4 linked regions of the Homo sapiens genome follow. The protein of the gene in region 1 interacts with the protein of each later gene in a pairwise test. Each region holds a gene or a part of one and is shown in the gene's direction. Other genes may lie near its edges.

Region 1 (8,021 bases):
CAACACTGCCCTCCAGTCCAGTACATCCGAGTTTGCTCCACTTACCTTCCCTACCATCAACCACAGCTCTACCCACGCCACACTATCCCGGCCAAACTCCTTAGCGTCATCTTTAAGACTCCTGTCCAGCCCTGTCCAGTCTCCCTATTCGGCCCTAGCCCCACAACTCCCCTTTAAGAATACTGGAAAACTGGAACTCTATCAAGCAAGCATGTCCCCATTCTCATTTGAAGGGTCCCCGCCACCTGGCGTGTCCTGCTCTAGCACACACACACACACCCAGACCGCAGGCTCCTCCTCTGCTCCATAGGCTCTTGGCACTACCCCGGGATGAGCGACTGTCTCCACTGCCACTGGTCTTGCCAGCCATTCACTTGCCCTTGCCTTGTGGTACATGTCACAGCTTGTCCAGAACTGTCATGATGTATGTGCTTGTCATGATTCCGCTAAATAGCAAGTGCCCCAGATGTAGAAATAGTCCATCTTTTCCTCCCCGACAGTGCCCAGCACAGTATGTTGCACAGGGTAAATGTTTATTGAGGAAATAAACCACTTGAAGCCCTAGAAAGAAGTCATTGGCCCAACACCCCACCATCCCTCTAGGCAGAGGCAGGAGAGAGGCCAGAATCCTGCCTTCTCCTTCCTTCTTTAGGCAGACGTGGGTGGGGCGGGGGCTTAAGCAGTTAGTCCCAGTGTTTATTTTCCCCCCACAACATTCAAGTCCTGTGCTAATCCTTCTGTTAATAAAAAACATGGACAAGATAGAGCTCTCAAGGCACTTGAAATTTAATTGGAGGGATAAACCCATAAAAAGGCAATTATTTGTTCTTTGGTGGGACTTTTGGAAAACCCTCTCTTACACATGACATAACAAAGCAACCTTTTTTTTTTCGTACGTCCCCAAAGAGGGAAAGGGGAGATAAGAATTATTGGGAATAAGGAAACTAATATGTACCGAGCTCAGGAGATGTGCTAGGCCACACTCAGGGCATACTTGCTTGCAATCCTTCTTTAGGGCAGTGAGATGTTCCCATGTAGCACATGTGGATGAGTTCACACTCAGAAATGCCAGGCCATTCACGGTCTCACAGCTAGTGAGCACTGCACTCTAGATTCTGCCCGGCTTCCACACTTTGCCTGCAAAGTGTGCCCAGGCATCGTGAGTTCTGGGGCAGGAGAGAGCACAGGCCAGGGTGCTTGCGGGGGCTTTGTGGAAGGTCTGGGGTTTGCATGATTTCAGATGATTTCAGTGGAGAAAATATGCACAGAGCGGAAAATGACGAGAGGAAAAACGGGCACGAGAATCAAGGCGGCAAAATGGGAGGTGTGCTCCAGGGAAGGGGAATAGTCCGTCTACTTGGCTGGAGCTGAAATTTGTGTAGAGAAGTGGCAGGAAGTGATTGGATCAAATGATGAAGAGTTTGGTCCTTATGCTGTGGCAGGGAGGAGATGGTGAGGGGCTTTGCGGGGGCCAGATGCAGTGGTCTGGTGGCAGCATGCTGAAGGAGTGGAGGCTCTAGGGTCTGGGCAGCAGAGTCCAATGCCCGGAGGCAGGGGCACATGGCTCCCAATCTCTGGTGAGAATGGTGGCTTTGGGGCCCTCATCCTTCCTTTTCTTCAGGTCTCTGTCACCCTTTCCTTCCTCCCTGAGTGTCCAGGTGCCCTGGCTCCACCTCTCCCGAAGTTAATGTTTAGATAGCTCCCCCGCCCAGCAGGTTGGTGTGTAGGGTGGGGCCGGGGGGCACTGGAGTGAGACAGACCAGACGTGGACAGAGAAGCCTATCGACAGGGCCTGGGGGAGGGAGGAGGCAGCAGGGCCGGAGTCCACCCAGGACATCTGGCACCAGTGACCTTGTGGGGAAAGGAGCCAAGAACGGGGCGTCGGGGGGCCTGGGACCCCCCTGCCTGAGAGATACAGGAATCCTGGCCCCGTGTTGTGGACACAAGCGCCCATCCTCAAGGTCCTGAGAACTCCTGAACTTCCAAAGGTATGAGAGCCCTGGCAGCCGCCTCCTGCCTGCTCAGTATGGAGCAGAGCTGAGGAAGCCCACCCGCCTGGGGCCTGAGCCAACAGGCACCTGTTGTTCAGTGTTGCCAGCTTTCAAGGGGGAGAATCTCCCCTCTCAGACAAGCCATGGGGGAGTTCAGTTCAGCTGGCCTTGAGAGGTCAGAGGCCTTCCCAGGGGGAGGAGGCCGGAGGCAGAGTGAGTCTTCCCATGGGACAAGGACAGTGACGAGGTAGGGTCAGAGGATGGCATGGGTGAGAAGGGTCCCCTTGCCTCCCCTCTGAACGCCCACCACCAATACACACACACACACACACACAGACACACACACACAGCCCAGATCCCTGGCAGCAAAATGACCTTGGCAGCTACCACTCCTCAGGTCGACAGAGGGAGCCCTCACTCTGCAGTCCCCTTGGGTCCAGGCCTGGCTGGGCTGAGCACTCTTCCTGCCCAAGGTGGCCCGCCCGCCCCACCCATGGAGGGACATTCCGATAGAATGTGAGACTCAGGCATGGTGGGGGACAGTGGGAATGGGGCCTTGAGGAATTGGAAGAGAGCTGTCCCTTGCTCTGAGTTTTCTCAGGTGGAATGAGAGAGGGTTTGGGACCAGGTGAAGGTGCTCACAGAGACGGCAGAGGTGTGGGGCCCGCAGCCGCGTGCCCAGTGCAGCCAGCGCCCAGGGGCCTCTGAACCCTGCCGGAGCAACCCCTCTGGCCCTTCAGCACAAGGACTGTCCCTGCCTTGCTGCCTGTCATTGTCCCGAGCTCCACACTGGGCTTCCTGGAGTGGGGACTCTCCCCAGTGCTGCATACTCTTCAAGACTGGCCTGCTCTCCAGCCCTGAATTAGGGTTCTCCTGGGGTCACCCCTAAAGCCAATTCTAGAGCCTTATGAAAGGAAGTGGGGGGATGGGGTACTTGGTGGGGTTCACTGGGCACCCTAGCTCCTGAAGCTGTCCCCTAACCCCCAGCCCCAGCACTGAGGACCCACCCTCAGGCCCCCTCCCTCCATCTCTGAGGAAGAGGCAGCGGGAGGCACAGCTTCCTCCTCCCCCCCTCCCTGCTGCCGCGGCTGAGCCGGGCCTGAGCTGCCGGCAGGTTGTCTTGGCAACAGGAGGTGGAGAGGAGATGCGCCGAGGGATGGAGGTGTATGTCACCGAGGAGGCTGCTGCGCTCCTGCCCCACGCCCTGGGCCCTTGAAGGTACCGAGCACCCTCCCCTCCTTCTCCCCTCCGCCCTTTCCCCTTGACTCCCCCTACTCTGCCCTACATGCACTGGCTTCAATAGGAGGAGGCACCCCTCCTCCCAGGCCCAGCGATTCTACCCATTCCTCATCACCCACCTCGTTCCAGGCCCCTGGCCACAGCTGTCCTTCCTGGCATCAGCTCATTCCAACTCTACCTCTGGGGACCCTTGCACCAGAAGACAGCTCTCCTGGGGTGGGGCCTGGTGGGGGAGGGGCAATACAGGGGAGGAACCCAGGTCGGGGTGCGGCGGGGATCAGGAATTCTAAAGGGCTGAGGTGTCAAAGCCCCAAGTACCTGGTCCGCTGGAGGGACCGAGAGAGATCATCTAGGGCTGGAGTGGGGCTGGGGCTTCCCCTCTGTCTCTCAGACTCTGATTAGAGGGAAGTAAGGGTGGGGTTGAAGGTACAGAAAGCCGAGAGGCTGGGCTGAGGCCGGGCTGGTTGTGGAGCGATGGCTGGAGTGGCTCCTCCTCCAAGGCTGTGCCCCTTTCTGCCACATTGAAGGTATGCCCCCTCCCACATCACTCTCCTGGCCTTTTTCTCTGCAGTTCCATGGATCTGATGCTTCATCCCCCACCCCCAGGTTTTCTCTACCTTCACAGCCACCCCCGCCTGGCTGCAGCAGCTCAGCCTGTGTTCTGTCTCCCTTCTCAGCCACCTGCCTCCTTCCTTCCTCCCTTCTCTCTGGAGCCCATCCCTCAGGTTACTGTCCTCTCTGTCCCCACCAGCCAGATACTTTCTGTCCCCTCCTGGCCTCTTCCCTCAAGCCCCTCCCCCTGTGCTTCTCCATTCAGACACCCCAGAGCCCCCTCCCCAGATTCTAGATTTCCCCAACAACAGCTGATACCATCAGCTGACCGGCTGGGGGCAGGGTTGCCAGGGCAACGGTGAGGGCTGCCTAGGTAGGCAAGTCTGCGGTGTGGAGGTGGAGAGGACATTGGGGCCAGGGCGAGGGTCGAGGGCAAGGCTTGTTGTCCTTCCCCATCCTGCCCAGGGGGCCCGAAAGGCCAATGAGAGGCTCCTGGGGTGGTTGAGGCTTTGCTAGAGACAGGGAAGGCACATGCCTGTAAATTCTGTGCTGGGACCCAGGGGTTACCAGGCAGGAAGCTCCTTTTTCATGAAGCCACCCTAGGGAGAGATGGGGTCCTTCTCTCTCTCTGCTGCATCCCATTGGAGTTCCCAGGGGATTCAGGTTACTGAGGGGCCAGCTCAAGTCTCAGTACTGAGGACCTGGTTGCATCCCTCCATTCTACCCTCCCAGGAGAGAGCTCATCCTTGGGTAACCAATTCTGGCCTGTGCCTGCACCCCCACCTCAAGAGGCTGGGCCCCAGAGGCCTCAGTTGCTGCTGTCAGATGGTGGGGTGGTCATGAATAGGGTAGGAGGTGCAGGTGCCTGGAGAAAGCAGGCATTGTCCGCCTGGGTCATCAGTAGCCCCCTCCCTCGACCCACCGCCCACAGCAACTTGAACTCTGGCTGTTTAGGAGGAGGCTGAGGGGCTCTGGGTGCGTGTGGGTGTGTGTGTGCGTGTGAGTGCTGCAGACTGCGGTGTGGGAAAGGGAGAGGACAGTGCTGGCTGATTCTGCTTTGTCATGACGCTGGGTTAATGCTCCTCTTGTTTGAAATGGATTGAGCTGCAGCGCTGGTGGAAGAGCGCGCACATCCACACACACACCCTTGCCAGCCACACGCTATCAGCTGGAAGTGGGGAGGGCGCGGGGAGGGCGTGGGGGAGCCAGCAGCCCGCCCGCCCTCCCGCCCCCAGACGAGGACTCCCCAGCACCGGGGGATCCAGGCGGCCGTGCGTTGCAGAGAAGCAGGGTGGGGGCAAGGAGGGTGGGGGCCCAGAGGGGAGATCAGACCGCTCAGCCGAGACCAGCTCCCCTCCTTCGCCAGCTCCCACCCCGCCCACCCACCCTAAGCCGGCATTTTTCCTGTTATTTGTGCTCCGGGGAAGCGCCGCGGGGTTCCTGGAAGAGACACCTATTACCTAGGCTCCTGGGGGAAGTGACAGCCCGTGGATCTGGCCTACGCCTCTCGGGCCTCTGTGGCCTCAGAGCGTCTGGGCCACACTGTCTGGGAAGAGGTAGGTGGCAGGGTCTCCGCCTCTCCTCCCCTCTGTGGGCACTCTGGGCCACAGCGCTTGCTGGCGAGCCAGGCTTTGGGTGGCAGCAGGGTATCTGGGGGGAGCCCACTGTGGGCCCTGTTCAGTGGGAGGATGGGCCGGCCCCTGGGACCAGCTGGGCCTGATCTAATGGAACCTTCTGATCTGGGGAAGAGGGCCTGGGGTGTTCTCATCCCAAGGATGAGAACTGCTCCCAGCCCAATCCCCTCTTTGCCAGCATCTCTGCCTGGCCTACCTAGCTGAGCAGGCCAGCAATGGAAGGGATGGACTGTGGGGGCACGGGGTGGGCAGGGGAGCATTCCCTCTCTGCTGAATACTGGCCCGCTGGCCTCCCCAAAACCACTCCACATGCTCTGGGGGTTGGAGCAGTACATTTAGGGGCCTGAGGCTGTTTGTTTGGAGCCTGCTTTTTAGGGGGAGTGGGAGGAGAGCCTGCCCCCAGCCAGTGGCTGGCCAGGCTGGGGTGGGGCTGAGTGAAGAGTGAGGCTGTGGCAGGGCGCAGCTGCAAGCCCAAGCCCAGTACTCCCCCTGTGCCCGCCGCTGGGGTGCTTGAAGGGGCCAGGGCTGAGCAGACATGCAGCCCCCACAGGGTTCTGGGGCTCCCCCTCCCTAGCTCTGTCCCTCAGGGCCTAGCAGGTCCAGCCCCCTTTCTTGGGCAGACACACCCAGTGTGTCCCTTCCAGGGACCAGTTGCCTGGTTGTGAGAGTCAGGGGAGCAGGGACAGGTCCAAGACAAGGAAGGCAGTTGGGCTGTGGGAATGGGGAGCCCAGGGAAGGCCTCCAGAGCTGGGTAAGTGGAGGGCTCTGTGTATGTTGCTGTACACGTGCACTACTCTGGGATGGATGCCAGGGAGAGGACCGGTGGGTGGGTGTGAGCGGGTGTTGGCAGCACCATGTGTCACAGTGAGGGGGCCTCGATGGGAGAGTGGGGGCATGAGCTGGCACACAGGGCTTCGGAGTCTCCCCGCGTGCATGCGTCCTGCAACGGTTTCAGCGCGGGCGCTTCTGCCTGTGCCCACCTGTCCATCTTGTGTCCGTGCTGCCGGCCTCTCTGTGGTCAGGCGTTAGACTCCTGGGTGAGGTTGTCCACCCGTGGGTGGATGTCTGCAGAATCCCTCTCCTAGAGCTCCTGGGTGTTGTGGGACTGGAACAGGGAGGCCCTGGGATCCAGAAAGCTGAATTGAGGCTGCATCTCCCCCAGCTCTGCCAGTCCCACTTGTACAACAGGACCAGCTATAAATGGAGGGGAAGCAGTCCGCCTGAGGGGGCTGCAGGATGCAGAAAGCAGAAAGCGGGGTCTCTTCAGAGGGTGGGTGGAGAGGGCACATAGAAACCAAACCAGAGAGAGACCTAGGAGAAGATGGCTGCACAGATGCGTCTCTGGGTGGGCTAGAGAGGCAGGAGGGGGCACCTGGGCCCGGTTTTGTTGTTATTGAGAGAACAAGGGAGGGCAGGCCTTGAGCAGGGGGACTCTGGGCTCCCCACCCACCCAGGCCTGGTCCTTTATCCGAGTATGAGAGGGTGCCCTGTAGTGCTGGGTTAGGGGAACCCTCATCCCAGCAGACACAACGGTAAAAAACATTGGAGTAGGGGAGAGGGAGAAAGTGGGAGAAGAGGAGGGAGTCCCCAGGCTCTGCCAGCCTTAGGACAGACTTGGAGTTCAGGCTTCGCCTAAGTAAGGGACACCTCTGATGAGCCACTGGCCCAGAGCAGGCCTCAGCCTCCTGGTGTCCTTTTCCAGTGGCGGGGGGGTGCGGGGAGCAAGGTGCCCTACCCCACCCACATCACACGCATGCACAGCACCCATGGGAGCGCCTGGCCCCTGCCCTGCAGCGCCGCACTGCTCCACCCTCCCTGCCCCTCCCCACCCAGGATGCTGTTTTGGGAACTGGTGACCTAGCTGGATTCTGCCTTTATTTCTGGCATTGAATTGTTGCCACAGTAACTGCGGGGGTGGGGCTGGGTAGGGGAGAGGGTGAAAGGGAAAGAGGGAGGGAGGGAGAAAAGATGAAGAAAGCCAAGAAAAGGGACCAGAAGAGAAAGCAGAAAGACAGGAGGAAGAAAGGGAGAGAGGGCCAGGCAGTCGCACTGTGAACAGAACAGGAGAAGGCGAAGCGGGGCAAAGTTCCCTGCCCACCGACGCCAGCCTGCTTGGATGACTTGCCTCGTTTCATAATTCACTTACTGTCTGCACCAGCCGGCCTCCAGCCTGGCTGGACCCTGCTGCCTGTGTGGCCCGGAGCCAGAGGCCCCCACACTCCCAGCTGCTCTTCTACAGATGCCATCAACGAGCAGGACTCTGGGTGGCTCCACTGTCTAAGGTTAGCACGTGGGACCCCCAAGTCCCACATTTTGATTGAACTGGGATCTTTGGTACTCATTGAAAAGAGCACTTGGCTTTGGCCTCAGGCAGGCCGGGGTAGGGATTCTGGCTTGGCTTCTATTTGGGGGGCCTTCGGCAAGTTCACCTCTCAGCTTCATTTTTGCTCATCTCTAAATGAGGAGAATGTCGTTTTGTGTGAGGTTTAGAGACGATGTATGAAAGTCCCAAGTATACAGGGGCTGCCACCAAGCAGGTAGTGGTTGGCTGGAAACAGGAGCACAGCTAGACCAGGGGCCCTCCACCCCGAAGTTGCCATTCTGC
Region 2 (7,000 bases), on another chromosome or scaffold:
GCCACCAAAAGCAGGGAGCCCTAAGGGAGCAGTTACAGGTGAGTGGAGGGTGTGAAGTTCCGTCCTGTCCTCTGGAGAATGTTTCTTTCCTTCTTTTTCAGCACTTGCTTGGGTTTCCTCCCAAAGGTTCACATTCAGACCATAGGGATCCTCGTATCAGAGAAAGCTGAGTTACAGACAGCCCTGGCTCACACTCAGCATGCTGCCAGGCAGAAAGAAGGTGGGAATCTGGGCACCCCATCATCCTTCAACCTGGCACTTTGACAGGCCTTTAGGGGGAGTCCTTTGGGCCCCATCTCAACCTCTCTCATTCCAGGAGAGTCTGAAGATCTGGCCAGCCGCCTGCAGTATTCCCGGCGGCGTGTGGGAGAGTTGGAGCGGGCTCTCTCTGCTGTCTCCACGCAGCAGAAGAAGGCAGACAGGGTGAGTCCAACTGCCTGCCCCGTCCCCTGGCATACTGGCTTCCCAGATGGAGGAGTGAGCCTAAAGGTCCCTTCTGCAGGGTTGACTGTCCTGCCTAGAAGGCAGCATGGGCCATTTATCACTGCTTTTGTGTGTGGTTGCTAGAGGCATCCTGGGGCTGAGTCAGCTGCTGTGGGTGAGTTTGGGGGCACTGTGGGGAGTGAACACTGGACGCAGAGCTCGGAGGCCAAGTGCCCGCTGTGCCGTTACCTGGCTGTGGCCTTGGTCAAGTCCTAGGTGGGGGAATATGGTACTTGTACTGTGAAGGTACAGAAGAGTATCTTTAGTATGTTACCATTTGTGTAGAGAGAGGGAACGTGTGTGTGTATGTGTACCTATGTACTATGACAATATACATAAAACGTGTCTGCATGGATTCATAACAAACTCAGGAGAGAGGAACAGCACGGCTGGAAGATATTTCCCTTCTGCCCTTTCGGAGTTTTGGACTATCTGAATATATCATCCTTTCAAAAACTGAACAAAAGATAATTTCCCCCTTCCTATTTGTGCCCCCACCCTCGGGGAACAAATGAGCTTAGAGAGTCAGATATACCTGGGTGTTCAAATCCGAGCTCTGTCTAAGTGATCTTAGGCAAGCACTTAACCTCTAATATTCCGTGTTGTCCATCTACAAAATAGAGGTAATAATAGTAACTGTCTCATGTGGTGGTTATGAGGATTAAATGGGATTGTTAGCATGGTGCCTGGTGAAGCATTCAATAAAGGTTCAAACAGTGGTAGTAATAATGATAATAACAATAGCAATATTATCTGATCTCTCTGGGCCTCTGTTAGCCAGCTGTAAATTCGATCTTGGCCAGGTGTGGTGGCTCATGCCTGTAATCCCAGCACTTTGGGAGGCCGAGGCAGGTGGGTCAACTGAGGTCAGGAGTTCGAGACCAGCCTGACCAACATAGCAAAACCCTGTGTCTACTAAAAATGCAAAAAATTAGCCAGGTGTGGTGGCGTGCCCCTGTAATTGCAGCTACTTGGGAGGCTGAGGCAGGAGAATTGCTTGAACCCGGGGGCGGAAGTTGCGGTGAGCTGAGATCGTGCCACTGCCCTCCAGCCTGGGTGACAGAGGGAGACTCTGTCTGAAAATAAATAAATAAATAAATAAATAAATAAATAATAACAAAAATTAGCCAGGCATGATGGCGCATGCCTGTAATCCTAGGTACTCAGGAGCCTGAGGCAGGAGAATCACATGAACCCGGGAGGCAGAGGTTGCAGTGAGCCAAGATGGCGCCACTGCACTCCAGCCTGGGTGACAGATGGAGACTCCATCTCAAATAAATACATATATACATACATACGTACATACATAAATTCGCTCTCTCTCCCTGTTCCTTCCACCCTTACCAAGTCCTTTTTTTTTGAGACGGAGTCTCACTCTGTTGCCCAGGCTGGAGTGCAGTGGCACCATCTCGGCTCACTGCAAGCTCTGTCTCCCGGGTTCATGCCATTCTCCTGCCTCAGCCTCCCGAGTAGCTGGGACTACAGGCACCTGCCACCACGCCTGGCTAATTTTTTGTATTTTTTTTTTTTTTAGTAGAGATGGGGTTTCACCGTGTTAGCCAGGATGGTCTCGATCCCCTGATCTCGTAATCCGTCCCCCTCGGCCTCCCAAAGTGCCAGGATTACAGGCGTGAGCCACCGCACCCGGCCACCCTTACCAAGTTTTTTTAAAAACAAATGAGACCAGCCGGGTGCCGTAATCCCAACACTTTGGGAAGTTGAGGCGGGCGGATCACTTGAGGTCAGGAGTCAAGACCAGCCTGGCCAACATGTTGAAACCCCCTCTCTATTAAAAATAAAAAAATTAGGCCAGGCATGGTGGCTCACGCCTGTAATCCCAGCACTTTGGGAGGCTGAGACGGGCGGATCACAAGGTCAGGAGATCGAGACCATCCTTGCTAACACAGTGAAACCTCGTCTCTACTAAAAATACAAAAAAATTAGCCGGGTGTGGTGGCGGGGGCCTGTAGTCCCAGCTACTTAGGAGGCTGAAGCAGGAGAATGGCATGAACCCGGGAGGCGGAGCTTGCAGTGAGCCGAAATTGCGCCACTGCACTCCAGCCTGGGCAACAGAGACTCCATCTCAGAAAAAACAAAACAAAACAAATTAGCCGGACATGGTGGTGCACGCCTATAGTCCCAGCTACTCAGGAGGCTGAGGCAGGAGAGTCACTTGGACCAGGGAGGCAGAGGTTGTGAGCTGAGATCTCACCACTGCACTTCAGCCTGGGTGACAGAGGGAGACTCTGTCTCAAAAACAACAACAGCAACAACAAAATGAGACCATGGGCTTGGAAATGCCTTGAAAACATGTCAAGTGTGATTGAGAGTGAGGAAGTGTTACTGTGGAGTACTTACTGTAGCTGTTGTTACTGGTTGGCCAGCTGCTCCTCTGCCTGCTATATCCTGACTTAACCTTTCTGTATTTACAGTACAACAAGGAGTTAACCAAAGAGAGAGACGCCCTCAGGCTGGAGTTATACAAGAACACGTAGGATGGGGGATGGTGGGATGGGAGGTCTGGGGGCCCTCAGCATGGGTGGTGTGCTGGGAGGTGGGGGGTACAGGTAAGCATGATGAGGTAGTCATAGAGGTGTGCATGTGTGCCCAGCAAAGCTCTAGTGCCAGCTGTGCCACTGACTCATGGTGTAGCCTTGGGTAACTCGTATCTTTTCTCTGGCCTGTACATGTGACTTTTGATTCCTGGGGTTCCTTCCAGTGCCACAGTTCTGTGGTTGTGGGGCAAGGGTAGAGGGTGGATCACCAAAGCAGTCCTTTCTGTTCTTCGTTCATTCCTTTCTCTACTGCCTCTGGCCATAGCCAAAGCAATGAGGACCTGAAGCAAGAGAAATCAGAATTGGAAGAGAAGCTTCGGGTCCTAGTGACTGAGAAGGCTGGCATGCAGCTTAACTTGGAAGAATTGCAAAAGAAGTTAGAGATGACGGAACTCCTGCTTCAACAGGCAAGAGGCTGCAGCCCCATGGGTGGTGGGAGCGCCATCCAGCTGGGGCCATGGTCTAGGGATCATGCAGGGCATGGGGAGACTCCAGCCAAGAGCTGGAAAATTTGGGTCCTTGTTCCGGTCCTGGCATAAAATCCTCTAGAGAGTGCTAAAAATCTACAAATTGGGGACCTGGGGAATCAGAATCTTAGGGTTAGGGCTTAAGACAATTTTTGTTTTGTTTTGTTTTGTTTTGTTTTAAAGCATCATGGGTGAAAACCATTATTTTAGAGATTACATTTATATGGCTAGCTCATGAGTCTGTTTATTTCCTTCTGAGGTTCAAGCCAACACTTTCACTAATAATAGAGAGTAGAGATCTTTTTTTTTTTTTTTTTAGACGGGGTCTCGCTCTATCACCCAGGCTGGAGTGATACTTACTGCAACCTCTACTTCCCAGGCTCAAGCCATCCTCCTGCCTCAGCTTCTCAAGTAGTTGGGACTACAGGCGCACACTACCATGCCTGGCTAATTTTTGTATTTGTAGATACGGGGCTTTGCCATGTTGCCGAGGTTGGTCTTGAACTCCTGAGCTCAAGCAATCCACCCACCTCAGCCTCCCAAAGTGTTGAGATTACAGGCATCAGCCACCATGCCTGGCCTGAGATCTTTTTAAAATTATTTTTTATTTCTAAAGCAAAGAAACTTGACAGCAGAGTTGTATTGACTGAGTTGCACATTGAGCCTAGCCCTAGCCCTTTTAAGGGGCACTATTTGGAACGGCCTGGGCTCCCCAGATCTAAACTTCTCGCTCTTCACCATCCAGTTTTCAAGCCGGTGTGAAGCCCCTGATGCTAACCAGCAGTTACAGCAGGCCATGGAGGAGCGGGCACAGCTGGAAGCACACCTGGGGCAGGTGAGGCTTTGCAGGGGAGGGATGTAGAAGGAAGATGACCCCAGGTGGCCAGGAGTAGGTGACAACCAGTGACAGTCCTTCCTCATTTCTGTGGCCATTCTTGCAGGTAATGGAGTCGGTTAGACAACTACAAATGGAGAGAGATAAATATGCGGAGAATCTCAAAGGAGAGAGCGCCATGTGGCGGCAGAGGATGCAGCAGATGTCAGAGCAGGTGAGACCTGACCCTTCAGCTCCCCCTCAACCTTAGATAGGTCACTTGATCTTTCTGGGCATCTGCGAAATGGGAGGAGCACAGCCAGAGGTGGTCATGGGTCTGGGCTTTGTGGCGGTGGGGGCAGAGGGAGATGGTAGCCTGTCCAGCCACCAGCCCCTCTCCAGGGCCCTTTCTTGCTGTGCTTTGGGCAGGTGCACACATTGAGAGAGGAGAAGGAATGTAGCATGAGTCGGGTACAGGAGCTGGAGACGAGCTTGGCTGAACTGAGGAACCAGATGGGTAAGCTGGGGCTGGGGTGACCTGGGAGCAGGAATGGTGTCAGAGGGTTGTGGGGGTGGTTTAGAATGCCCCAGGGAGTTGGGTGGATGGAATGGCTTTGAGGCAGAGGGAAAGAGGTCTGTGCCAGGAGATGGCAAGTCTCGTCATCTCCATGAGCCTCAGTGCCCCATCAGCAAAGACGAAGGAGTGCCCGTTGTCAGCCACCCACAGTTGTCGCTATCGGAAAGTGGTTTGGAAGATTGGCTAACATCCGGGTGCGAGGAATCATCAGCAGGGAGGCCAAGTTTGGGGAGCTTGAGAGGAGGTATGGACCAAGAGGAGGGTTTTTTTGAGAATCCAGAGGCTTTTATTGTCTGCGTCCTTTCTCAGCTGAACCCCCGCCCCCAGAGCCCCCAGCAGGGCCCTCCGAGGTGGAGCAGCAGCTACAAGCGGAGGCTGAGCACCTGCGGAAGGAGCTGGAGGGTCTGGCAGGACAGCTTCAAGCCCAGGTGCAAGACAATGAGGGCTTGAGTCGCCTGAACCGGGAGCAGGAGGAGAGGCTGCTGGAGCTGGAGCGGGCGGCCGAGCTCTGGGGGGAGCAGGCGGAGGCGCGCAGGCAAATCCTGGAGACCATGCAGAACGACCGCACTACCATCAGCCGCGCACTCTCCCAGAACCGGGAGCTCAAGGAGCAGCTGGCTGAGCTGCAGAGCGGATTTGTAAAGCTGGTGCGCTGCCCCACCTGGAGAGCCCGCCCTCCTCCCTAGCCCTCCAGACCTTTGTTTTCCCACCTGTAAAGTGGGGCAGTGTAGCCCTCACTTGAAATGGTACTTCTGGAGGCATCTGTGAGCCAGAGCCCTGCTCCGATGGCTGTGGGGGAGAGGGGATGATTTTTCTAACCTGCCTCCACCCTTCCCGGTGCCATGGGAGGCAGACACCAAGGCAGCAAGTTCTGGGGTCTCCAGCTGCAGTGGGTGGCCGCTGATTGCTTCTCTCTGTCCAGACTAATGAGAACATGGAGATCACCAGCGCACTGCAGTCGGAGCAGCACGTCAAGAGGGAGCTGGGAAAGAAGCTGGGCGAGCTGCAGGAGAAGCTGAGCGAGCTGAAGGAAACGGTAACCCCGCCCCATCCAAGAAGGGCTGGGAGGCGGGCACCAGCCTCTGGGGAGGGGTGGTGTGAGGCCAGAGGCAGCTCCAGCCTGGGGCACAGGTGACCCCAGCACCCTCCAGGGCAGTCCTGTGACTGTTTCTTGCTCCCTGCCCTCTGACTTTTAGAGGTGGATAGCTTTGGGCTCCTCTCAGGTCTGGACATCATCGTCCCAGCTAGAGGCATGGATTTCTCCCAATCACAGGGGAAGAGACAGCGGCATAAGAGGCTCCTTAGATTCAAACTGGATTCTGGCCTTTGCTCCACTGGTCATCATTCAACTACTTTGCATCTCTAAGCCCCAGTTTCTTTAACTTAAAAAGGAAGTTAGCATCTTCCTTGCAGAGGTGCTGAGGATTCAATGAGATAATACGTGGAAAGCATTAGGCATGTAGCACACTTAGCAGATGGTGGTTGGCTCCCTCTGCGTTTCCACCAGTCTGTGGCCTACGGTTTAAATGGTGGGAAGAAGGATGTGAAATTTGAGGCTGGGGAAGGAGGCACGAGGCTCTAGACAAGGGAGGCAGTCACTTAGGCCTGGAGCAAGGGGCCAGAGGTCTGGGCAGGTGACAGAGCCCTCGCTACCCTATTTATGGGCCCTGAATCTGGAAGCAGGCCACCACCTGCCCTCACGCCCAGGGTCTTCCTACAGGTGGAGCTGAAGAGCCAAGAGGCTCAAAGTCTGCAGCAGCAGCGAGACCAGTACCTGGGACACCTGCAGCAGTATGTGGCCGCCTATCAGCAGCTGACCTCTGAGAAGGAGGTGCTGCATAATCAGCTACTGCTGCAGACCCAGCTCGTGGACCAGCTGCAGCAGCAGGAAGCTCAGGGCAAAGCGGTGGCCGAGATGGCCCGCCAAGAGTTGCAGGAAACCCAGGTGAGGGAGTTGGTGAGGGCAGGGCCCCGAGGGGGACAACCTGGCAACCTCCATGCCTTCTCACTCTCTTTTCTGGCCCCTTAGGAGCGCCTGGAAGCTGCCACCCAGCAGAATCAGCAGCTACGGGCCCAGTTGAGCCTCATGGCTCACCCTGGGGAA
Region 3 (7,030 bases), on another chromosome or scaffold:
TCATCCTGAAAGGAGGGCCCAATTCCCAGTTCATCTTATGAGACTATTATCCTGATACCAGTAGTAGACAAAGACAATATAAGAAACTGCAGACCAAGATTCCTCATGAAAATAGATGCAAAACATAAACGCAGAAAAGCAAAGATAGTTGCTACCTTGGTTGGATGGTATTGACTGGAAAGGAGCACAAAGGAACCTTCTGTATTGTTGGAAGTGTTTGTTATCACAATCTAGGTAGTTATTACACGGGTTTAAACACATGTAAAAACTCATCAAGCTGTTTAAGGTTAGAGCACTTCTTTCAGTTTGTTGTATATATGTCATACCTCAAAACATTTTTCAATGTTCAATCTACCAAGAAGGATGAATGAAAAGTGTCTCACATAGTTTAGTGTATGACACCTGACATGAAATTCTTTCTATGCTGATGCCCAAGAAATTCTGTCGACTAATGAAACAGTTTGGAAACTCTCCTCTATTCTGCTTAAAATAAAGTCACTGTTGGTTTATACAGCACTGTATCTTCTGGTTAACTCGGCCATTAGAGTGAGCACCAGCCCAGTTGAAAGTTCACAAGAAGCAAGTAAACACTGGATTTGATTTAGAATCAATAATAGCAGCAGGGTTTTCTCAGGCTGTTTAGAAGCATCGTGGCAATTGTTTGAGAAAATATAGGTAGTTCTAGTGAATGCGCTACAGAATGTTGGAAGTAGCGGTTAGCTTAGAGATTTTAAAATGTTAGAATCAAATAAAAAACAAAAATAAAATTTAGAATCTGTCTACAGCAGTGAAGATGACCTTCAAATTGTAAGTAAAATTAATATTTCTTAGAAGGAAAACCTCTCCAGTTAGTGAAATTACAACCAAAGAGAATAATATAATATAATCACAAAGAATGTTGCATTTTTGCCTCTTTCTTAGGGACCTTCTCAAATGATTCATGTGAGAAATTGCTTCTGCTGTACGAGTTTGAAGTTAGAGCCAAATTGAATGATCCATTACTGGAAAGCTTCCTGGAATCAGTGTGGGAGTTGCCTCATTTAGAAACTAAAACTTTTGAAACAATTGCAAGTAAGAGCTATATTTATGCTTTTGTAAGGCTGGTGCCCATTTAGATCGTATGACTTTTTTTCTTCTCTTTACTCTTCTTTCTTACCTCCAGGTAGGAAATAATTTTTTCTCATAGCACTTTGTTTCTCCTTCTCTAATGCCATTCTTAGACTATTTTGTATTATGATCATTTGTGCATTTATCTTCTTCACTCTATGAGATTATAATCTCTTTAGGGTCATAAACAATAATTACTTAATTTGTACTTACAAACCCTAGCGAAGTTCATTGCTCCTAATAGGTGCTCAAATTTTTTCTGTGTGGAATTTAATTATGTAACTACACAACAGGGGGAGCTCAAACTTTAGAAAGTTTTTCTGGGCTAGCTAGAAATAACTGAGTGCTTCAACAATCAAAAGTGATGCAATCTTAGCTGTTTGTTGAAATGTACAGAGAAATACTGGTAATATTTTTTAACACAATTGCCACTCTCAAATTTCAGGCCAAACTTTACGTGGGTTTGGGGGCATAGAGCCTTTTTGGGAGTACACTGCAGGAAACAGCCTAATTATCTTCCCTTTTTATCTCTCACCCTCTTCAGGAGCATGTGTGTGGTTAATAAAAATATTAGGTAGCTCCAAGTGCACAAGAGTCACATTTGCCTTTCCTTGGTCTTGCCAAGACAGAATTCCTAGAGCCATGGAGCAGATGATATATACTTTATGGACATGTGACAGCAACCACTGCTCCTTGTATAATGGAACTCCAATTCTAAAAATCTGTTAAATGCATCTGGAAGTCTTAGGGTTAGTTACCTCTGATACTCCCTTGTCAAGTGTTTCCTATTTTTAGTATCAGATAAAAATAGGACATTTTAGTACAAACCTGTTTCAATTAGTGCCCTTTTACTGATCTGCTTTCTGTTTCCTTCTTAGTGTGCCCTTCCTTGACTGTCATTCATAAGATTATTGCTTCACCTGTATGACTGTGTGCAAGGTCATACAAACAGTAGGTTTTCTGTTGATGTTTGCTGAAAAAAGGATGTTACCTGGTAATCCCACCATGCTACTCTGCCCAGAAAGTAGAAGCTATTTCCAAAAGCGACTGTAGATTTATCATTTATAAAATTCATTGTTGTTTATTTTTGTTCATCTGTTTCAGCCCAGTTTCATTAGAGAAAGCAAGTGGTAGCCTGGGATGAAAACTGTGATGGGTGACATTATCATGTTCACAACCTTTTTCCTTTTCTTACTCTAGTAATAGCAATGGAAAAGCCTGCACACTATCCTTTGATTGCTCTCAAGGCCTTGAAAAAGGCTTTATTGCTCTACAAAAAGGAAGAACCAATTGATATATCACAATACAGGTTAGTAAATACAATCCAGCCTTTTTGCTAGCCAAAAGAACTATAGTCAATGCCTCAAAAGTAACCAATCGTTCTTAATTGACTCAACTTTAAAGATGATATGGGGATGATCTGGGGGCATTCTTGTGAACAGCTCCATACTGAGAGTTGTATTACAGACCAATAATTATTTAGCAAAGTCAAGGAGCTTGGTTTTCCCAAAGGAGAAAAAAAAGGGGAAAAGTTGCTTCTTTGTGTGAATCTGTGTATATAATAAAACTGCTAAGTACCTTTCTTTCTTTGTTTCATCACTAAATAATATTCCAAATGTACAGAAAAGCACAGGGGTTAATATAACAAACACCAACGTATCCACCACCCAGATTTATTTGTTTTATTTTTAGAGATGGGGTCTCGTGATGTTGCCCAGGCTGGATTCAAACTCCTGGGCTCAAATGATTCTCCACCTCAGCTTCATGAGTAGCTGGGATTACAGGCACGCAGCACCCAGATTTAACAAATGTTAACATCTTGCTATGTTTGCCTCATTATTTTTCTAAGCACTTTAAGCACCGATAAGTGCTGTATAAAATATTATCTATTGGAGACTTTTTTGTTTTCTGTGTCCAGACATGGGGAAAAATAGATGTTGTGTGACTTTTTTTGTCTGGAAAACATCATTACAGTCTTCCTGTGTTAAGGCACGAAAGACAGTTCTTGTGGAATCATTCCACTTTAAACCCCAGTTCCCTTGCCCATTTGAGGAAGTACCGAGATGCTTTAAAATGCCTGTAAATTGAACCAGCTCATAAAATATAATAGACAGCCACAACTCCTTCGTGCAGGAAACTAAAAAAAGAATGAAAGACAACCATAGGCATGAAAAAAGAAAGGATTGGTCAACCTGTTTTACAGCTTCAAAAATCTGTCTTCTGAGGTTGGAGGCCAGATAAAACCGAGGGAAGAACAGAAGTGTTTTGAAGCTGTTAGTCTGGGATGAGATCCAGGTTTTACTTATCTTAGCCATGAAGCCAATGATTTCTTTCCTTATGGGATGAGTTTTCTCTTTTTGATTTTCAGCAAATGTATGCACAACTTGGTTAACCTCTCAGTGCCAGATGGGGCGTCGAATGTAGAGCTCTGTCCCCTGGAAGAAGTTTGGGGCTATTTTGAAGATGCTCTGAGCCACATTAGCCGCACTGTAAGTCAAATAGTGATATTAAACTTTCAGTTAATTTTAAAGAACTGAACTGTCTTGTGTACTATAAATTATATACAATAATGCTTTCTGATATGAGTTTTAGGATAAATTCATATTACAATTTTGTAGTTACACACTACAGAATTTTCCTGGGTTTCTGAAATATAAATAGTTGAAAGTAGACATTTTCTAACACAAGTGTATTATGGATTAGGTCCAAGTAGCAGTACCACCAGGCATTTTGAATTATTTTATATTTTCAAATCATGGTGGGATGATTACTTTCTCTGTGATGATATGAACCTTTTGAAAAAAGTTATTGCTATTCCCATCCTTTCTCAGAAGCATCCTTTCTCAGAAGAGTAGAAGGAACATTGAAGACCTGTATTCTAGTCCCTCCTCTGCTGATTTCTTTTTCTTTTCTGTGCAGGTTTATTCAGTTGTTTTAAAATTAGGTTTCTTGAGGTATAATTCACATATCATAAAATTCACCCATGGCTTGTGCACAATTCAGTAAATTTATAGAGTTGTGCAACTATCACTACAATCCAGTGTTTTTTAGTTTTAAAAATGTTTTATTTTTAATTTTTGTGGGTACATAGCGGTGTACATGTACCCATACTTATGGGGTACATGAGATTTTTTGGTACAGGCATATAATGCATAATAATCATATCAGGATAAATGGGGTATCCATCACCTCAAGCATTTATCCTTTGTGTTACAAGCAATTCAATTATACTTTTAGTTTTTTAAAATGTACAATTAAATTATTGTTGATTATAATCACCCTGTTGTGCTATTAAGTACAGATCTTATTCATTCTATTTTTTGTACCTATTAACCATTTCCACATTTCCCCCACCCCTCCTCTGGTAACCATCACTCTACTCTTTCTCTCCCCAGCAGTTCAATTATTTTAATTTTTAGCTTTCACAAATAAGTGAGAACATGTGAAGTTTGTTTTTTGTGTGTGTGCTGGGCTTATTTCACTCAACATACTGACCTCCAGTTCCATCCATGTTGTTGCAAGTGACTGGATCTTATTTTTTTTATGGCTGAATAGTACTCCATTGTGTATAGGTACCACATTTTCTTTATCCATTCATCTGTTGATGGACACTTAGGTTGCTTGCAAATCTTAGCTATTGTAAACAGTGCTGCAACAAACATAGGAGTGCAGATACCTCTTTGATATACTGATTTCCTTTCTTTTGGGTATATATCCAGTAGTGGGATTGCTGGATCATACGGTAACTCAATTTTTCGTATTTTGAGGAACCTCCGAACTGTTCTCCATAGTGGTTGTACTAATTTACTTTCCCACCAACAGTGTGCAAGGGTTCCCTTTTCTCCACATCCTCACCAGCACTTCCTATTATTGCCTGTCATTTGGATATAAGCCATTTTAACTGGGGTGAGATGATATCTCACTGTAGTTTTGATTTGCAGTTCTCTGATGATCAGTGATAGTAAGTACCTTTTCATATGCCTGTTTGCCATTTGTTTGTCTTCTTTTGAGAAATGTCTATTCAGATATTTTCCTTATTTTAAAACTCGATTATTAGATTTTTTTTCCTATAGAGTTGTTTGAGCTCTGTATATATTCTGGTTATTAATCCCTTATCAGAGGGGTAGTATGTAAATATTTTCTCTCATTCTGCAGGTTGTCTCTTCACTTTGTTGATTGTTTCCTTTGCTGTGCAGAAGCTTTTTAGCTTGATGTGATCCCATTTGTCCATTTTTGATTTGGTTGCCCATACTTGTAGGATATTGCTCAAGGAATCTTTGCCTACTCCAATATCCTGGAGAGCTTTCCCAATATTTTCTTGTAGTAGTTTCATAGTTTGAGGTGTTCGATTTAAGTCTTTAATCCATTTTGATTTGATCTTTGTATAAGGCAAGACATAGGGATCTCAACTTTCCTCCTTCTGCATATGGATATCCAGTTTTCCCAGCACCATTTATTGAAGAGACTCTTCTTTCCCCAAAGTATGTTCTTGGCACCTTTGTCAAAAATGAGTTCACTGTAGATGTATGGATTTATTTCTGGGTTTGCTATTCTGTTCCACTATGTTGAGCTGCCTGGGGCTGGAGGAGGGGTGATACAAGCACCCTTGTGGCCACTGCCACTGGGACTGTGCTGGTCAGACCTGAAGCCAGCACAGCACTGGGTCTCACCCAAGGCCCACTGTAACCACTACCTGGCTACCACCTATGTTTGCTCAATGCCTTAGGGCTCTACAGTCAGCAGGTGATGAAGCCAGCCAGGCTGTCCTTCCCTTCAGGGCAGCAACTTCCCCCTGGCCCCAGAGATGACATGCAGGAGCCAGGGCCTGGAGTCAGAAACCCTAGAAATCTACCTAGTGCTCTATTCTACTGCAGCTTAGCTGGTATCCAAACCACAAGACAAAGTCCTTCCCACTCTTTCCTCTTTCCACACGCAGAAGAGTCTCTCCCCGTGGCCACCACCATCAGGTGGTGTGGGGAGTTCTGCTGGGCTACTGCCAGTGTTCACTTAAGGCCCAAGGGCTCTGCAATCAGCTTGTGGTGAATGCTGCCAGGCCTGGGACTCATACTTCAGAGAAGTGGGCTCCTCTCTGGCCCAGGACAGGTACAGAAATGCCATCCAAGAGCCAAGGCCTGGAACCGGGGACCCTAGGAGCCCACTTGGTGCTCTAACCCACTGTGGCTGAGTTGATATCTAAGCTGCAATACAAAATCCTCTTTACTCTTCCCTCTGCTTTTCTCAAGCAGAAGGAGTCTCTCCTCATAGCCACCACAGCTGGGAATGTACTGGGTCACAACTGAAGCCAGCATGTCTCAGAGTCTCACCTAAGGCCCACAGTATGTACTACCTGGCTACTGCTGCTGATCACTGAGGGCCAAAGTGCTATTTAGTCAGCAGGTGATGAATCCTGCCGAGACTGGGTCCTTCCCTTCAAGGCAGTGGGTACCTTTTAGCCCGAGGTGTGTCTCAAAATGTTATCTGGGAACTAGGTCCTGGAATGGGACCTTCATGACTATGCCAAGTGCCCTGTCCTACTGTGGCTGAGCTGGTATCCAAGATGCAAGACAAAGTCCCCCTTAAGCTTCCCTCTCCTCTCCTCTAGTGGAAGGAAGGGGTCTGTTTTGGAGCTGCAAACTGCACTGCCTGGGGTTGAGGGAGGGGTCGTGCAATCACTCCCTTGGCTGCCCTGGCTGGTGTCTCACTAGGTCGCATGTCCCCCAGATGCACTGGCTCCAAGCCCAGCACAGCACAAAGATTTGCCCAGGAGTTGCAGTCCTTGTGGCCTAGACTGCCTCTCAAATTTATTTAGAACCCCAGAGCACTTTAGCTCTCAGTGGCAAGGCTTGTTGGAACTCAAGTTCCAACTACTGGGATGGACAATTGCTCTCTAGCTAGGGCTGGTCTAAATACTCCCTCCATGAGC
Region 4 (6,629 bases), on another chromosome or scaffold:
GAACTCTTGACCTCAGGTGATCCCCCTGCCTCGGCCTCCCAAAGTGCTGGGACTACCGCATCCGGCCTTTGATCTTAACAGTATACATAGAATGTATTCTGTTGTTAACAGAGTTGGTTTCAATATTGTAAAGACGTACCATACAATTAATACAGAGTAATCAAATTGTGGAAATATAAAAAAGAAAAACAAGTATTAAACTGTAGTTCTGAGAAGTAGTTATGGCCTTAAGTGTTAGAATAATTTTCTCAGTAAGATGCTGCCTTTTTAATTTTTAAGTTCTCATATATAAAATTATTTAATTTTTTTAGGTACATCCATAAACCTACCAATCCTGATGAACCTCCAGTTGCTGAACAGCCCAAACCACTGTACCCATATCGAACAATTGGTTGTGTTTTCAACCATCAGATGTTCCTGGGAAATTGTCAACCCTCTGATGCAGTAGAAACCTGTGTATTTGATTTGAACGATGAATCCAAATGGAAACCCATGAGTGAGGAAGCAATTAAATCTGTGTGTGCTCCTGGAGCTACAACATCCCTTCCTCCCTTTCCACCTCTGTGTGCATCCACAATTGACGCGTCAGTAACAAGTAATGAAATTGAAATGCAGCTGAGGCTCCTGGTGTCAGAACACAGGAAGGTAATTCACACTGAAATAGTTGTAGTTTCATACTTCTTTTCATTTATGTATTTAACTGTTTTTTGGTGTGTGTGATAGTGCCAGTCACTATTCTAGCCCTGAACAAAACAACTACAGTCCCTACTATTATGAAGCTTATAATTTTGAAAGTCATGAGAGTTCAAGTTCTGAGACTCAAAAATCTTCAAATTAATTAATACTTATAGAATGAATTACTTCCTCCTAGAAATGAAGAATGGTGAACTTGTTCACATCCCTTAGAGTCAAGATTTTTGCTGAATACCACTATTTGGATTTTGTCTTTGTGAAATGCTTATTCACATATTTGCCCCTTAAAAAATCCTGGGTTAGGCTGGGCTTGATGGCTCATGCCTATAACCCCAGCACTTTGGGAGGCTGAGGTGGGTGGATCGCTTGAGCCCAGGAGTTCAAGACCAGCCTGGGGAATATGGTGAAACATCATCTCTATTATTTTTTAAAGAAAAAATATGTATACTGGGTTATACTTTTTTCATATTCATTTTTCTCCCCAGGTTGGTTTCTGTTTGTTTTCATGTTGTACTCAACTGGGTAGACGTCTGGCTTTAATTTGCATTTCCCTGATTACTTTTGAGATCAAACCTCTTTTTTTTTTTTTTTTTTTTTTTTTTGAGATGGAATCTCTCGCTCTGTCACCCAGGCTGGAGCGCAGTGGCGTGATCTTGGCACAGTGGCGTGATCTTGGTTCACTGCAACCTCTACCTCCCAGGTTTAAGCAATTCTCCTGCCTCAGCCTCCTGAATAACTGGGATTATAGACATGTGCTACCACGCTGCCAGTTTTTGTATTTTTTGTAGAGATAGGGTTTCACCATGTTGGCCAGGCTGATCTCGAAGTGATCTACCTGCCTCAGCCTCCCAAAGTGCTGGGATTACAGTTGTGAGCCACTGCGCCCAGCCAGATCAAGCCTCTTGTCAAATAGCATGTAGATTTCCTTTGTAAAGTGCTTTTAAGAAGACATAAAAAGTATTAGTCATAAAGGAAAAGATTAATGTATCTTAAAGACTTAAGCTCATCAAGAGAAGACATTAAGAGATTGAAGCTGTGGGGTGGGAAAAGTTGTTTGTAACACATATCACCAACAAAGGACTAGAATCCAAAATGCCTACAAAATATTTCTGATTCACCTTTTAGGGTTCCCTGTTCCACTCCTCACCTTGGGTGAGCCCTGTTTTCTGTGTTCTTTGGGGCTATCAAAGGCAAACTGATTTATCAAACATGTTCTCTGGGTTCCCAGTTACTCTTAGCTTTGGCCTCTAAATATTTCTTATTCACTTGTCAACTTATCAAAGCATTTAAACATACATTTTGGAAAACCTGGCATTTGTAATATGTTTTCAGCAAAAGTTGGTCAGGGGACCTCTGGTCCATTATATTGCTGGAAATGAATGCCCCTTATTACTTTTTCTTTCCTTCCATCACTTGTATTGGCTTTAGCTTTCTTTTCTTAGGTTCTGCTTACAAATAAAAGCAATATCTTATAAAAATTACTTTTGGCCAGGCACAGTGTCTCACGCCTGTAATCCCAGCAGTTTGGGAGGCTGAGATGGGTGGATTGCTTGAGCTCAGGAGTTCAAGACCAGCCTGGGCAACGTGGTGAGACCCTATCTCTACAAAAAGTACAAAAATTAGCCGGGTGTGGTGGTGCATGCCTGTAGTCCCAGATACTCGGAGGCTGAGGTGAAAGGAGCCGGGGAGGCAGAGGTTGCAGTGAGCCGAGATTGTGCCACTGCACTCCAGCCTGGGTGACAGAGTAAGACCCTGTCTCAAAAAAAAAAAAAAAAAAAAAAGGAATTACTGTTTACAGAAAAAGAAAACAAAGCTGTGATAGATGCCAGTGTTGATCACTATTTAAGTTAAGGTGCCTGTAAATCAGCAAAAGTTCACATTTTGCCGCAGGAAAAGCATTGTTAATCGTGGATCTTTGAGACCATTTGTGATGAGTTAAAACCTTGAATATAAAATGAGGAAATACCAAAGATCCATTATGATAATCAAAATATCTAGAATTTTGAGAATTTTTTGTATTTGTAATATTATTATTTTTAACTTCATGTGTCCAGATATCAATAGGTCTTTTGGTGTTATAAATGGAATCATGGGCTGGGCACGGTGGCTTATGCCTGTAATCCCAGCACTTTGGGAGGCCGAGGTGGGTGGATCACTTGAGGTCAGGAGTTTGAGACCAGCCTGGCCAACATGGTGAAAGCCCGTCTCTACTAAAAATACAAAAATTAGCCGGGCATGGTGGCAGGTGTCTGTAGTCCCAGCTACTCAGGAGTCTGAGGCAGGAGAATCGCTTGAACCTGGGAGGCAGAGGTTGCAGTGAGCCGAGATCGCGCCACTGCATTCCAGCCTGGGCAACAGAGTAAGACTCTGTCTCAAAAAATTTAAAAAAATAAAAAATAAATGGAATCATGTTGTTTTTAACATTCCATAGAAATATGTTTTAAGCTCCCTAAGGGCCTATAAAATGTCTTCATCTTTTTATCTCTTACAGTATATAAGTTTTATAGAGTACATGTTCAGTAAATATTTGTTTAATCACATAGAATTAATTTGTTGACTTTTCTCACCTCTGTAGTTGAGTTTATGGTAGGAAGAGTCAGTCTTTAGTAAACAGATTCATTCTTACTAAACTCTTTTTTATTTATTTTATTTATTTATTTTTTTTGAGACAGAGTCTCGCTCTGTTGCCCAGGCTGGAGTGCAGTGGCACGATCTCGGCTCACTGCAAGCTCTGCCTCCCGGATTCATACCATTCTCCTGCCTCAGCCTCCCAAGTAGCTGGGACTACATGCACCCGCCACCACGCCCAACTCATTTTTTGTATTTTTAGTAGATACAGGGTTTCACCTTGTTAGCCAGGATGGTCTCAATCTCCTGACCTCATGATCCGCCCACCTCAGCCTCCCAAACTGCTGGGATTACAGGCGTGAGCCACCGCACCCGGCCTAAACTCTTTAAAGTTAAGTAAAATATCTCAAAATATAAGAATTATACCTGTCCTCCATATTAGGACTATTTCATATAGTATTTTGTAGTAGATATTAGAGAAGTACAGGATTTGGAGACTTTGTGAACATTGTTTTGAATGTTTTTTGGTTGTTTCTCTAAAAAGTAAAATCTGATCACCTATAGTTCCTTTTATCTGATTTTTATTTCTATGTATCCCTATAATTATTATTATTAAAATATTATGATAGCTTTTAAAAATCTTTTCTTGGTATACATTAAAATAATCAACATTTTTATTTAGTTGGTTTTAAAAATATTAATGTATTTCACTTTTTCTTTTTCTCTTGATTGCTCATAGGATCTTGGCCTCACTACTGTTTGGGAAGACCAGCTCTCCTACCTTTTATCACCAGCTTTGGCTTCTTATGAATTTGAGCGTACAACAAGTATATCAGCAGGCAATGAAGAATTTCAAGATGCCATAAGAAGGGCTGTACCTGATGGTCACACATTTAAAGGGTTCCCAATACATTTTGTGTATAGAAATGCAAGACGTGCATTTGCCACATGTCTTCGGTAAGGTGTAATTTACGGAATCATTTTTTCAGTTTAGGAGTCTTACAGATCAGTCCGGCAGGGGTTTTTTTAATTTCCTTTTTTTTTTTTTTTTAACTCAAGGTCTTGCTCTGCTGCCCATGCTGGAGTACAGTGGCACAGTTATGGCTCACTGTAGCCTTGACCTCCTGGGCCCAAGTGACCCTTCCACCTCACCCTCCCAGGCAACTGGGACCACAGGCATGTGCCACCATACCTGGCTATTTTTTTTATCTTTATTTTGTAGAGATGGGGGTCTTCCTATGTTGCCCAGGCTGGTCTTGAACTCCTGGGCTCAAGCAGTCTTCCCACCTCAGCCTCCCAAATTGCTGGGATTACAGGTGTGAGCCGTTGCACCCAGCCTAATCTGGTAGTTATTTAGAAATGACATCCAAGTCATATGGGAGCTTTTACAATGACTGACCCTCCTTGCCACAGATTTTGATTCATTTGGTCTGAAATGTAGCCCTAGATAGTCTGGGATTATTTGCCCAGTGATTTTGGTGCAGTCTCAGGTATCTCTGATTTTGTTTGGACTATAAGGAAATAGTCTATAATTTGAATAGCTTGACCAAAATTACAGTGTCTTTGATAGCAGAGACAGAATTTGAAAAAATTATTTTATTTATTTATTTTTGAGATGGAGTCTCAGTCTGTCGCCCAGGCTGTAGTGCAGTGGCACATTCTTGGCTCACTGCAACCTCTGCCTCCTGGATTCAAGCGATTCTCCTGCCTCAGCCTCCCAAGTAGCTGGGATTACAGACGCCCGCCACCACACGCGGCTAATTTTTGTAATTTTTAGTAGAGGCGGGGTTTCACTATGTTGGCCAAGCTGGTCTTGAACTCCTGACCTCAGGTGATCCACCTGTCTCGGCCTCCCAAAGTGCTGGGATTACAGGCATGAGCCACCACGCCTAGCCTGAAAAAATTATTTTAAATACTGATTTACTTGCAAATAAGGAATTAAAGTGTATGGTCACTTCTTAATTGAATAATTTTTTTTTTCTTAAATAGATCTCCTTTCTGTGAAGAAATAATCTGTTGCCGTGGAGACCAAGTGCGACTGGCAGTTCGTGTCCGAGTATTTACTTACCCTGAATCTGCATGTGCTGTTTGGATCATGTTTGCTTGTAAATATCGCTCGGTATTATAGGGCCAATATTTATATAAGATTTATACCTGTGTTTAATTGGAATTTTACACATTGTACATTACTTAGCTATTTAGAGGTTTGTTATTTTAAAATCACAATCTGGCTTGAATGGCATACTTCAATTTTGTATATACTTGACTGGTAATGTTTAAAAAAAATCATGCATTCCTTTAAAAATTAAGGCTGAAAAACTTGTATAAATCTCCCTGGAATTTAGTATAAATTAAGTGTATATTCTATTTTAATAAATGCTACTTTGTTTACAGTTATCAGTAGTTTAAATATTAATATAAAATGCATTCAGTTTTCTTTACACAAACAGGTAATCAAAGAGATGTTTGTCTAAGGGTTTGAGCCCTAGACAAATCAGTATGATCATTACTTTTCACAGGTTAATGGAATTATTTTATACAGATTAGGAGAAATTAACCTCATGACAGATTTATTTATTGCATTGGTGAAAATAAATGTTAATGAATTACCACTTTTGTGGTTTATTCGTGGTCCTTGGGATATTTGAGACTGTCCAGAAATTTATGGTTGGACCTTGAAGCAAGAGTAGGAAAAAACTAATACCAGAAAAGCATAAATATTAATAACCTCATATGAAAGTACATGAATCATTTAGAAATATTTATCACTGTGATTTGTTGTAAAAATGAATTGGGTATTTTAGAAAAACTTTATTATACCTCTTTGTTATGATACTGATAAATTGTGATCTTGCAGTCGATCACTGATTTTCTGTGGTCAGAGGATTCATTATTAGCCTCTTCATGGATTCTATCTTCTGAAACCCTTTTTTCTTTCATTGTGATAAAAAAATCAGCATATATGTGACTAATCTAAATAAGAGATTGATTGTGTGAGACCACTGAAAACAAGCATATGTGAGTGATTCCATACTGATTTTTGTTTTAAAATTGAGCACGTTTTAAAAATTTTGTAAGGCTCGGCGTAGTGGTTTATGCCTGTAATCCCAGCACTTTGGGAGGCCGAGGTGGGTGGATCACTTGAGGTCAGGAGTTCGTGACCAGCCTGGGCAACATGGTGAAACCCTGTCTCTACTAAAAATACGAAAATTAGGCCGGGTGCGGTGGCTCACACCTGTAATCCCAGCTACTCAGGAGGCTGAGGCAGGAGAATCGCTTGAACCTGGGAGGCAGAGGTTGCAGTGAGGTGAGATCGCGCCACTGCACTCCAGCATGGGAGGCAGAGCGAGACTGCATCTCAGAAAAAA

The links.
Region 2: the proteins of DMTN (region 1) and GOLGA2 interact in binary tests that used the Homo sapiens proteins (3 or more experiments, as listed by UniProt).
Region 3: the proteins of DMTN (region 1) and TEX11 interact in binary tests that used the Homo sapiens proteins (3 or more experiments, as listed by UniProt).
Region 4: the proteins of DMTN (region 1) and CEP76 interact in binary tests that used the Homo sapiens proteins (3 or more experiments, as listed by UniProt).

Annotation. Positions count from the first base shown.
Region 1 is NC_000008.11:22,051,799-22,059,819, forward strand, and holds the start of DMTN (dematin), read left to right. Parts: upstream 1-5,015; 5' UTR 5,016-5,338; intron 5,339-6,065; exon of another isoform or gene 6,066-6,167; intron 6,168-7,281; exon of another isoform or gene 7,282-7,698; intron 7,699-8,021. UniProt on the Homo sapiens protein: Membrane-cytoskeleton-associated protein with F-actin-binding activity that induces F-actin bundles formation and stabilization. Its F-actin-bundling activity is reversibly regulated upon its phosphorylation by the cAMP-dependent protein kinase A (PKA).
Region 2 is NC_000009.12:128,259,008-128,266,007, reverse strand, and holds part of GOLGA2 (golgin subfamily A member 2), read left to right. Parts: coding exon 1-38; intron 39-126; coding exon 127-220; intron 221-316; coding exon 317-423; intron 424-2,915; coding exon 2,916-2,974; intron 2,975-3,303; coding exon 3,304-3,445; intron 3,446-4,250; coding exon 4,251-4,340; intron 4,341-4,446; coding exon 4,447-4,554; intron 4,555-4,748; coding exon 4,749-4,836; intron 4,837-5,205; coding exon 5,206-5,543; intron 5,544-5,818; coding exon 5,819-5,932; intron 5,933-6,616; coding exon 6,617-6,841; intron 6,842-6,925; coding exon 6,926-7,000. UniProt on the Homo sapiens protein: Peripheral membrane component of the cis-Golgi stack that acts as a membrane skeleton that maintains the structure of the Golgi apparatus, and as a vesicle thether that facilitates vesicle fusion to the Golgi membrane.
Region 3 is NC_000023.11:70,548,692-70,555,721, reverse strand, and holds part of TEX11 (testis-expressed protein 11), read left to right. Parts: intron 1-921; coding exon 922-1,071; intron 1,072-2,307; coding exon 2,308-2,416; intron 2,417-3,475; coding exon 3,476-3,596; intron 3,597-7,030. UniProt on the Homo sapiens protein: Regulator of crossing-over during meiosis. Involved in initiation and/or maintenance of chromosome synapsis and formation of crossovers.
Region 4 is NC_000018.10:12,672,125-12,678,753, reverse strand, and holds the end of CEP76 (centrosomal protein of 76 kDa), read left to right. Parts: intron 1-311; coding exon 312-645; intron 646-4,000; coding exon 4,001-4,218; intron 4,219-5,250; coding exon 5,251-5,389; 3' UTR 5,390-6,129; downstream 6,130-6,629. UniProt on the Homo sapiens protein: Centrosomal protein involved in regulation of centriole duplication. Required to limit centriole duplication to once per cell cycle by preventing centriole reduplication.